Linked DNA regions of Homo sapiens. The protein of the gene in region 1 purifies or fractionates together with the protein of each later gene. This does not show direct contact. Each region holds a gene or a part of one and is shown on either strand. Other genes may lie near its edges.

Region 1 (5,290 bases):
TTCTAGCACCTCCTAGACTTCTTTCCACAGGAAGTGTTCTTCAGTGTTCAAGGGTAGGTTTAAAAATGTTTTTCTGTTTAGTTACTGCACCTTAATTTGCATAAATCCGCTCTTGGCTTTGAAGGGATCAAATAAATCTGAGAAGAAACTGGGATACATCCCAGATTCAACTTAAGTAGGCAAGGGGAAATGAATAAATGCCACTTAAATGGAAGGGTCTCAGTACCTGCCAACTGACCAGCTGTAAGTACCGTAATACTTCTAAAATGCTGTAGAAATGCACTGCTCTCCTGGAAAGCCAGTGGAGAAGAAATGTCCATGGACTTTGTAAAAGCATTCCAGGTTTGAGTTATACTCTGTGGAACTCATGATGTAATTACTGTAACAACAACTTAAGGCTCCTTTTTTATTTTTTATTTTTATTTATTTATTTTGAGACAGGGTCTCACTTGTCACCCAGGCTGGCATGCAGTGGTAACATTACGGCTCACTGGAACCTTGACCTCCTGGGCTCAAGTGATCCTCTTGCCTCAGCATCCTGAGTAGCTAAGACTACAGGCATGTACCGCCGCACCTGGCTAATTATTTTTTTGTTGTAGAGACAGAGGTCTCACTATGTTGCCCAGGCTGGTCTCGAACTCCTAGCCTCAAGTGATCCTCCTACCTCGGCCTCCCAAAGTGCTGGGATTACAGGTGTGAGCTACCGCGCCTAATTTTTTTTATTTTAATTGAGTAAATAATGGTCTGTTTGAATATGCAACAGAAAAAGGATGGCCCCATTAAGTTCATAGAGCCTACTTTTTCCCCTGCCATTGTGAGCCAGATTGCTACTATCACTGTTATCGTTTATGGTTGATTTTAAGGAGGTAGTGGCGACCTCTCTCCTCTTTGCCTTGAAATACAGGGAATGTGAATTCCATTTTACATAGATCGAGCTATGTCTAGGGACTCGCTTCAAGACAGGAGGAGGAGGGCTGGACTTTTGCCCATCCACGCTTTTGGAATGGGTACCTTTCTCGTCGTGAGTCGGAGTCGCTGTGGTGGGGATGTCGAACCACTGAGCCAAGGAGTTAGAATACCACACTGTCAGCTCCTCCCCTGGCTGGACGTCTCGCAATGCTCGGTAGAAGATCTGGGACGCAAGGAATAGAACAGTTCAATGTCATTTCCTGGGTAATCGGTCAAAAAGCAACTGAGAAGAAAGGTTCAAATCCGGATTCTGATGCTGTGTGACCCTGGAGAAGCTACTGGAGCTCTCTGAACCTCACTTCCGTCATCCTTCAAACGGAAAAACAATAGTAACTACCTTAAAGGGTTGTCGAGACGTTTAAATGAGACGTCTAGCTAAAGTACTTTGCTCTTAATATTTTTGGCCACCGCAGGGACGGTTAGGTAGACTGAATTGGCGGTGGGGAGTGGGGGGGTGTGGAGAGAAGCCCGCAGTACCTGTCCTCCGGGTAAGTCTGCAATAGCTTCCAGAGTCTGTTCCTGGGAGTTTCTGGCTGCCCGGATTAACCCTATCCACTCCAGAGGGGAGCCCCCCGACTCGTCCACCAGCTCCCCTCTCACCATGCGCACCTGCAACACAAGCAGTGGTCGTTCTCCCCCGCACCTTGGCCAGGCCCACAACCCAAACAGAAAGTTTATCCTCCACCCCAACCCAACACAGGAAAGTGGTTGTTTTTGGTTTGGCCAGACCACTATGGGCTACTGGGAGGAGGAGAATTCCTTAGGACCTTGCTTCGGGGAGGGAGAAAGAGGAAAGTCTACCTATGCTAACAGTACTCCCACTTCCCTGCGCCCCACCTTGACGACACGGGGAGGGGAGAGGGGTGTTGAGAGCATCCTCCCTGAGTGCTTAGGCACATCTTGTACCAAGTTGTCCCCTACCCCAGCTCTCCCATTTGCAGTTCTGAGAGCAGCCGTAACACCACGGTAGAGACATTTCTAGGTCAGTCCCAGGGCCCAGAGCGTACCCCCGACAAACAAACAAAAAAATTATCTCATGCCTCCTGTATTCTGTGTGCATCGCACCTAGTTGCCTGTGAGCCCTGCAGCTAAAGTCTCGGAACAAAGCCCAAGCGGGGAAAAGCTTGCCCGCAGCTGGCAGGCCATTTAAAAGCAATTAAAACGCGTTTAAAGAGGAATGCGCGGTGGGCACCAAACCCCGCTTTAGACTGTAGTGGGGGGCGTGATTGCAGGAGGAGCGAGGTGCAAGTCCCGCTGGCTGGACACCGGAGCTTTTTACTAGAAAGCTCCAAGCAAGGCAAGCTAAAGCCAAGGAAGCCAAAGTCCTTTCTTCTACCCCAGACTTCTGCCTTCATTTCCCGGTCGCTGTTTGCCGACCTTTGGCTCCTGGGACGCCCCCAAAGCGGGCGAGTGCTATAAGTCTCTCTGGTCAGGGGTCGCGACGGTGTGTGGAGTGTGGGAGTCAAAGCTAGTGGTTTGGCCCTGGCGCCTCCCGGTTGGGCCTCTGGACTCTCAGAGCCCCGCTGCAGACGCTCTGACCCTGTGCCCCGCGCGAATGGGCGCGCCTCGCCCTTGGAGCCCGCGTCAGAGCCAGTACCTTGCTCATCCTCTCTCCATATGCCGCATACCCACAAGCCGACATCGGCAAGGGAAAAAAAAATATCTGAGGAGGTTCTAGGAACTGAGAGCCTCCCAAAGATTTTTTTTTTCAGGAAAAAAAATTACTTTAAGGCGAAATTAGGCCTCAAATTAACATATTGAAGGGCAGAAGGGAAGAAAGGGTCTCGATGCCCTGAGCCCCCAGAAAGAGGGTGCTTTTGCAGAGAGAGCTGCGGACAGCGTGCGGGGGTGGGCTTCTGGCTTCTGACTGAGGAGACCCGAGAGCGCAGGGGAAAACACAAGCTGCGAATGGTCCCGGCACCTACAGCGCTCAGTGCACCCCACCCAGGGCTGTCGCCTCTCGGCCACATCCTCTCCTCTCAGCCCGACCCCGTCCAGCTCTCACAGTTAAAGAGGCTACTTGCTCAGAATAATAGGAGTCCCCTTCCACCCGGCAGAATTAGCAGGTAACGACTCAATCACTCCCTTCCTCCACTTTCTCTCGTACCCCTTTCCCGGGTCAGGGCACTGAGAGGCGAATGGCAGTGGGCAGAGGTCTGAATGGTCAATACCTTTTTCTTAGGCCCGGGCTCCCTGCGGTCTGACAGGTACTTGCCCAGCTTGAAGGTACCAGGCACCGGTCCGAGGCGCAAGCCGGCCGGGATGCAGCAGTCGGCACTCACGCTGGTGGCTGGCGCTCTGGCGGCTCCGTGCATTGTTGCCGCCGCCACCAGGCAGGCGCTCGGGTGCTCCAGGTCCTTGGAAGGGCGCGAGTGACAGAGCTGGAGCTGCGCGCTAGCCAGAGAGCCGCGCCCCGACGTGCGTCCTCCGCCCGCGGAGTGACGCGGGCGGGCATGCACTGCGCCTTTTCAATCGGGGCGGGAGCCTTTTGGCACCGCTAGCGCAAGGGCGCGGAGTTTGGTGAGAGAGTTGCGCTGCGAAGCAGCTGCAGAGTCCCACCCGAGAGGGTCACATGGAGTGGTTCCCTCAGCCCCCTGCATAATCGAGGCCGCTGAATGGCTAGCACACAATGGTCCAGGCGACCTTCCCATTCCTAAAAATCCAATTTGTCAAGGGCGAAGAAAAGGCACTGGTGAATCAAAGGTCCGGCGGGACCATTAATCCTCAGCATGGGGTATTGTCCTCCAGACAGTTACGATATTTTAAGTGACAAATCCACTGTATAATTTCTCCATAAATTTTACTTCCTTTTATTGTTCCCCGACAAACCAGTTTTGGGAAATAAGTGACTACTTTAAGTCTACTTGGCTGATTCCTTTGAGCCTTGATCTACTTCAAAGATTTTTAATTCTCTCCCCTTGGCTTTATTGTAAAGGAGATTAAACAAAGAGATGGAGACTGTTTGGAGGACTTGTTAACTACTATTGATTTCTGGCGTGTGCCATACAGAAATTAGGCAGGTACTTGATGGGAAAACACCAGAAAATACCTACACTTTTTAAATAACAACCATATTACCATTTCAGGGGATTGGGTTCAGGCCAGTCGTCTATTCAGAACCGCTTTAATTCTCACTTCTGTCCCATTTCGTCCGAAAATATGATGAAGCCTCCAGACCAAGTTGAGAAGGGGAGGTCAACTGCTCATCACTTTTCTCGGGCACACCCCGGGCCTGCACTTTCTCTGGAGAATGGGAAACAGCCCCAGAACCAACAGTTTCGAATGGGGATCCTGCGCCCCGGTCCGCAGCCCAGGGTTGAAGAGGAAGAAGTTCTACCAGTGGGTTATTGATCACGTCCCCTAGAAGATGTCCTTGGACTAACTTCCCTAAAACCAGCAACCTGGACTTTTCTATTAAAAAAAAAACAGTAAACAAAAACGAAAATCACCGCAATCTGTTAAAGGTTGTAGAGAAGAGGGGCGAGGTGGGCGTTTGGGACAACTCTTTCTTACACCTACTTTGTGAACTAACAAGACGTTGTACTTCAGAGTTAAACCGGAGAGCTACCCGTTTTCTTTTAGGGAAGCCTCCAATTGGCGTGAGAACATTTATTTTCATAAATAGTAGCCAAGTAATCAAGTTCATCAGATATTTGTGATTTCTGCCGGCACCTGCCGCGTGCTGCTAGTTCTGAGCACAGCTCCCCAAATCCTATGCAGCCAGCACCGGAGCCCGATGCAGTTCTTCCAAGAGAGGCCTGAGTGGTGGTGTATTTCCAAGCCTAGCGCCAGAGGCCCAACCACTGCACAAAAGGGCAGAGGGCCCTCAGCAGCGCCCACGCTAGCTTCTCCTCGAGGCTTTGTCGGCTGAAAGTGCTGGAGCGATTGTGGTTAGCAAGGGTGGCAGGACGCAAGGTGGCGACACCTGCAACTCAGCAGTTTATCTGAGGAGGGTCTTCAAAGAAGCTCCGTGTGGTGCCCCTCACTCGAAACCTATGTTCACCACACTGGGCAGGACCAGGACACTCAGGATCATTCACCCTGTGCTCTCCCACTCAAGACTCGGGGAACCTTTAGTGGATTGCTTCGGAGGCTCAGCCTCCCAGTCTGTAAAATGGGAATGATGGATACAAACAGACCCTTTGCTTCCTCTCCGTGGTTCACTTCGGTTTGTAACAACAATCTGTAGAGTGCGTGCATTCTAGAAGCTCCAAAACTGGTTGTTTGCCTAATGGGAAAATCCAGGCCAGGCCAAAGGTTTCAAGTCTAAGCATCTCAAGTCAGACCATGAGAGGACACACGGAAGGCTGGCCTCGGGCCA
Region 2 (4,697 bases), on another chromosome or scaffold:
ACCTCTGCCTCCCAGGTTCAAGTGATTCTCCTGCCTCAGCCTCCTGAGTAACTGGGATTACAGGCATGTGCCACCAAGCCTGGCTAATTTTTGTATTTTTAGTAGAGATGGGGTTTCACCATGTTGGCCAGGCTGGTCTCAAACTCCTGACCCCAAATGATCCACCCACCTCGGCCTCCCAAAATGCTGCGATTACAGGCATGAGCCACTGTGCCCAGCCTCATATGCAAAGATCTATGGGAGATTTTAATAAGCGAACACGAGTAAGACATGAGGTAAACCACTTACAGTGCGTGGGCTTATTTTAGACTTTTTCATATCATTTAATTCAAAAATAGTGTCTGGGATTAATATGATGCTAGCTACAGATCCTTACCCTCATGGGGCTTAATCTAGTACCATCAGCTAATATCCAATTATTAACCTGTCCTTCCACTGGGAGGATAAAAACAGAACTGGTGGTCAGTACAATAAGGTCAAGTTCAACAAAAGAACATTAACAATCTGAATAAGGTATCCCTTTCCTCTTTGTTCTATATACGTATCTTCTACCAAAACAGCAGAATGTGGAATTAATCTGCCCTTTAGTCCGATTTGGCTTAAATCAACTTTGTAGATCACAGTTTCTCAACTCTCACCCCTTGACTCCTTTGACAAACAAGTTTCTTCTTTAACGTTATTTGAAATTTCCAAACAAATTAAATATCATGACTAAAAAATATTAAAAGCACTTTTAAATCTTAGAATGTCTTTTCAAATCACAAGTCTCCCCCTCCTCTGATTGCCACCCACTCCCAGGCCCTCTGGTTAAGAAATTACTGTTGGGTGTGGTGGCTCACGCCTGTAATCCCAGCACTTTGGGAGGCCGAGGCGGGTGGATCACGAGGTCAGGAGATCGAGACCATCCTGGCTAACATGGTGAAACCCCGTCTCTACTAAAAATACAAAAAAATTAGCCGGGCATGGTGGCGGGCACCTGTGGTCCTAGCTACTCGGGAGGCTGAGGCAGGAGAATGGCGTGAACCCGGGAGGCGGAGCTTGCAGTGAGCTGAGATCGTGCCACTGCACTCCAGCCTGGGCTACAAAGCGAGACTCCGTCCCCCACAAAAAAAAGAAAAAAAAAAAAAGGAAAAAAAAAAGAAATTACTGTTGGATAAGTCTTTTTTTTTGAGACAGAAATTTTGCTCTTGTTGCCTAGGCTGGAGTGCAATGGTGGAATCTCGGCTCACCGAAACCTCCGCCTCCCGGGTTCAAGCGATTCTCCTGCCTCAGCCTCCCAAGTAGCGAGGATTACCGGCATGCACCACCACACCTGGCTAATTTTGTATTTTTAATAGAGATGGGGTTTCTCCATGTTGGTCAGGCTGGTCTCCAACTCCCAACCCCAGGTGATCTGCCCGCCTCTGTATCCCAAAGTGCTGGGATTACAGGCCTGAGCTACTGCGCCCCACCTGTTAGATGAGTCTTAAAAAAACAGGCTAAAATTCCTTACAAGATCTTCAACTTATTTAACTGTAGCAGCAGCACTGACTCAGTCAAAATATAAGCAGCAGGTTTAAAGGAATTAGCCCTTGGAAAGCAAAATCAATAAACCTAAAGTAGGTGCCCGTGTTTGTTCCACTCCGTTTCATTCCAGTTAACTGAGAAAAGATGTTATCTAAATCCTCCATGCCCTTTGCTCCCTCAATACCTAGGCCCATTACATGTTTAGATTTCAACAGTGTTCCCTCTGCTTTATAAGTAAAGCACTGTTTAATGCTCCAGGTTTATCAATCCTTTGCAATTCAACAATGAACTGGTCCAATTCTTTAATTTTCTCTAAATCTTATGTGAACTGGTTAAAAAGTTAACAAATCAATCACCTCACAAAACAAAACCTGTCCCAATTATTTATACATGGTCTACAGTGGGGAAAACACACCTCCAGCTCTTTATATACCCATACAGGTTTAATAAAAGATCTTAAAAACGGAAATATTGCTAAGTCCAGAAGCCGTTAAACAAGAGACAACACATTCATGGTTTTCTTAATAAACAGGATTTGTTATAATAGATACTAAAATAAATACAGCCTACTTCTTAACTCAGAGTTTCTCTATCTCAGCACTGCTGATATTTTAGCTTAGGTAATTTGTCATGGGGGGATTTTAGCAGTTATCTCTGATTCTGCTCATTAGATGCCAATAGTAATCCCCGATCCCCATTCCACTCTGACAACCAAAAGCGTCTCTGGACACTGCCAAATGCTCTGGGGTGGGATGAGGGTTTGGGATGAAAAGACTGTCCCTTAGCTGAGAACCATGTTCTAAGTGATGTTTCACTTCAATAAATAAAAAGATAAATGAAAAGGAATTGTTAGTCCTATATAAAGGACTTTTCTTTGGGGGTGATAAAAAGGTTCTGAAATTAGATAATAATGATGGTTGAACATCTCTGAATATACTAAACCCCACCAAATCATACAGGGTCTTGCTCTGTCACCCAGGCTGGAGTACAGTAGTGAGATAATGGCTCACTGCAGCCTTGACCTCCAGGGCTTAAGCAATCCTCCCACTGCAGCCTCCCAAGTAGCTGGGACCACAGGTACATGCCACCACCCCTGGCTAATTTTTAAAATTTTTTTTGTAGAGACGTGGTCTCACTATGTTACTTAGGCTGGTCTTGAATTCCTGGGCTTAAGTGATCCTCTTGCCTTGGCATCCCAAAGTGCTGGGATTACAGGAGTGAGCCACTGCACACGGTCCAAACTGTATACTTTAAAAGTGTAAATTTTATGGTATACAAATTACATTGAATAAAGCTGTTACTAAAAGTGAGTTCTGCCACATTCTCCATAATTAAAAGCTACTTTAGGCCAGGTGTGGTGGCTCATGCCTGTAATCCCAGTACTCCGGGAGGCCAAGGTGGGAAGATCACCTGAGGTCGGGAGCTCGAGACCAGCCTGGCCAACATGGTGAAACTCCATCTCTAGAACCGCTTGAACCCAGGAGGTGGAGATTGCAGTGAGCTGAGACCACGCCACTGCACTCCAGCCTGAGCCATAGTGAGACTCTGTCTCAAAACAAAAACAAAAACAAACAAAACAAAAGCTACTTTAAATAATGAATAACAAATGTTTCCCTAAACCAACAACATTGCATAAACACAATCGATCCACCCAGAGTGCCTAGAATTAGACTAATTATATTGGTGTTTACAGCCCAGCCATGAAAAGACATTTCATGCAATGTAATACAATATTTCACCTTCACCTTTACTGCACTATATAGATGCTCCCTGACTTATGATGAGACTGTCAGGATAAACCCTTCTCAAGTAAAAAAATGCATTTACTATCCGGATAAACCCATTGTAAAGTCAAAAAGATCCCAGTGCAAGCCACCTTTTGATTTAGTTGGGGATTGGGTAAGTTTAGCATAGTAAAGACTGAGTCAAAACTCATAAGCTCCACCATCTTGACCCCCGTACGGGTTCAGTTACATGACCTCTCTGTGCCCAATTACTTCATTTTGACAGAAGATGCCATACTACCTTTTCCTTATCCCTCCAGGGATACTCAATTTGATCATATACATAATCAAACAAAATAAGTGCCCAATGCATGCCATGCTAACCATTACACAAAATGGGAGACAGGAGGTACACAAATTCAAGTTAAACTTCTTGATTTGGTACTTTCCCACTATCAGGACCATAGCAGTATCTACTACAAATTTAAGAAACTGGCTCATAAATGTACATAAGGCAAACCTAATTACAAATAATTACTTAAAATACTGTACTCAAGTTCAGTTATTTCCTCTACCATCACGAAAAGAGAATTCCAGAATGTTTTGAGATGAAATATACCTCTTTTTTCAATGACATTACTTAGAAACACTGCTTTATCTTAATTGACACTATTCTGTATTTGTATTTAAACTTTCATAAAGAGTTTTAATTTTGGCCTTCTGGGTATCTTACTCACAGAATAACATATACATGATAGAGGATGGAACTTGACACTAGGGAATCTGTAAGCAATATATAATGGCACCCCTTAAAACCATTTCACTGTGAGAGTCAGCAGTGTATGAAAACAACCACTGCAGAGCATCTTCTCCCTATAAAAATAATCAAATAAGATGTCACACAGGACTGCATTTTGAAGCATTATGGAAATGAAAGGCCTGTGCATGAGCTTACATATGTTATTTCCAATTTTAAAGTTTGTTTTTGTTTTTTTTTTTTGAGACGGAGTCTCGCTCTGTCGCCCAGGCCGGAGGGCAGTGGTGCAATCTCAATTCACTGCAACCTCTGCCTCCTGGATTACAGGCGTGAGCCACCACGCCCAGCCCAAAACCCCGCTAATTTTTGTATTTTTAGTGGAGACTGGGTTTCACCATGTTGGCCAGGCTGGTCTCGAACTCCTGTTCTCAGGTGTTTCACCCACCTCAGCTTCCCAAAGTGCTGGGATTACAGGCATGAGCCACTGCACCCTGCCCAATTTGAAAGCATTTTAAATGTTAACCTGTATCAAACGCATTTGATTCCCTCTAGGTAAGGGGACAGCAGATAAATAATGACCACTTTCCAGATAAAGAAACTGAGATTCAAGCGGTAACTGGCTTATTACTGGCAAGTCTACTAAAGTAGTCACAATGAAAATTTAAGAAAAATGAAAAACTTCGTATTTTTAAGATTTTTTTTTGAAATGG

Evidence for each region. The genes of interacting proteins can lie anywhere in the genome.
Region 2: the proteins of PRDM13 (region 1) and EIF4B purify together in Homo sapiens (affinity purification with mass spectrometry; one large-scale study listed by BioGRID and IntAct). This does not show direct contact.

The regions. Positions count from the first base shown.
Region 1 is NC_000006.12:99,605,029-99,610,318, reverse strand, and holds the start of PRDM13 (PR domain zinc finger protein 13), read right to left. Parts: upstream 3,487-5,290; 5' UTR 3,285-3,486; coding exon 3,141-3,284; intron 1,579-3,140; coding exon 1,447-1,578; intron 1,133-1,446; coding exon 1,012-1,132; intron 1-1,011. UniProt on the Homo sapiens protein: May be involved in transcriptional regulation. Is required for the differentiation of KISS1-expressing neurons in the arcuate (Arc) nucleus of the hypothalamus.
Region 2 is NC_000012.12:53,009,028-53,013,724, reverse strand, and holds part of EIF4B (eukaryotic translation initiation factor 4B), read right to left. Parts: intron 1-4,697. UniProt on the Homo sapiens protein: Required for the binding of mRNA to ribosomes. Functions in close association with EIF4-F and EIF4-A. Binds near the 5'-terminal cap of mRNA in presence of EIF-4F and ATP.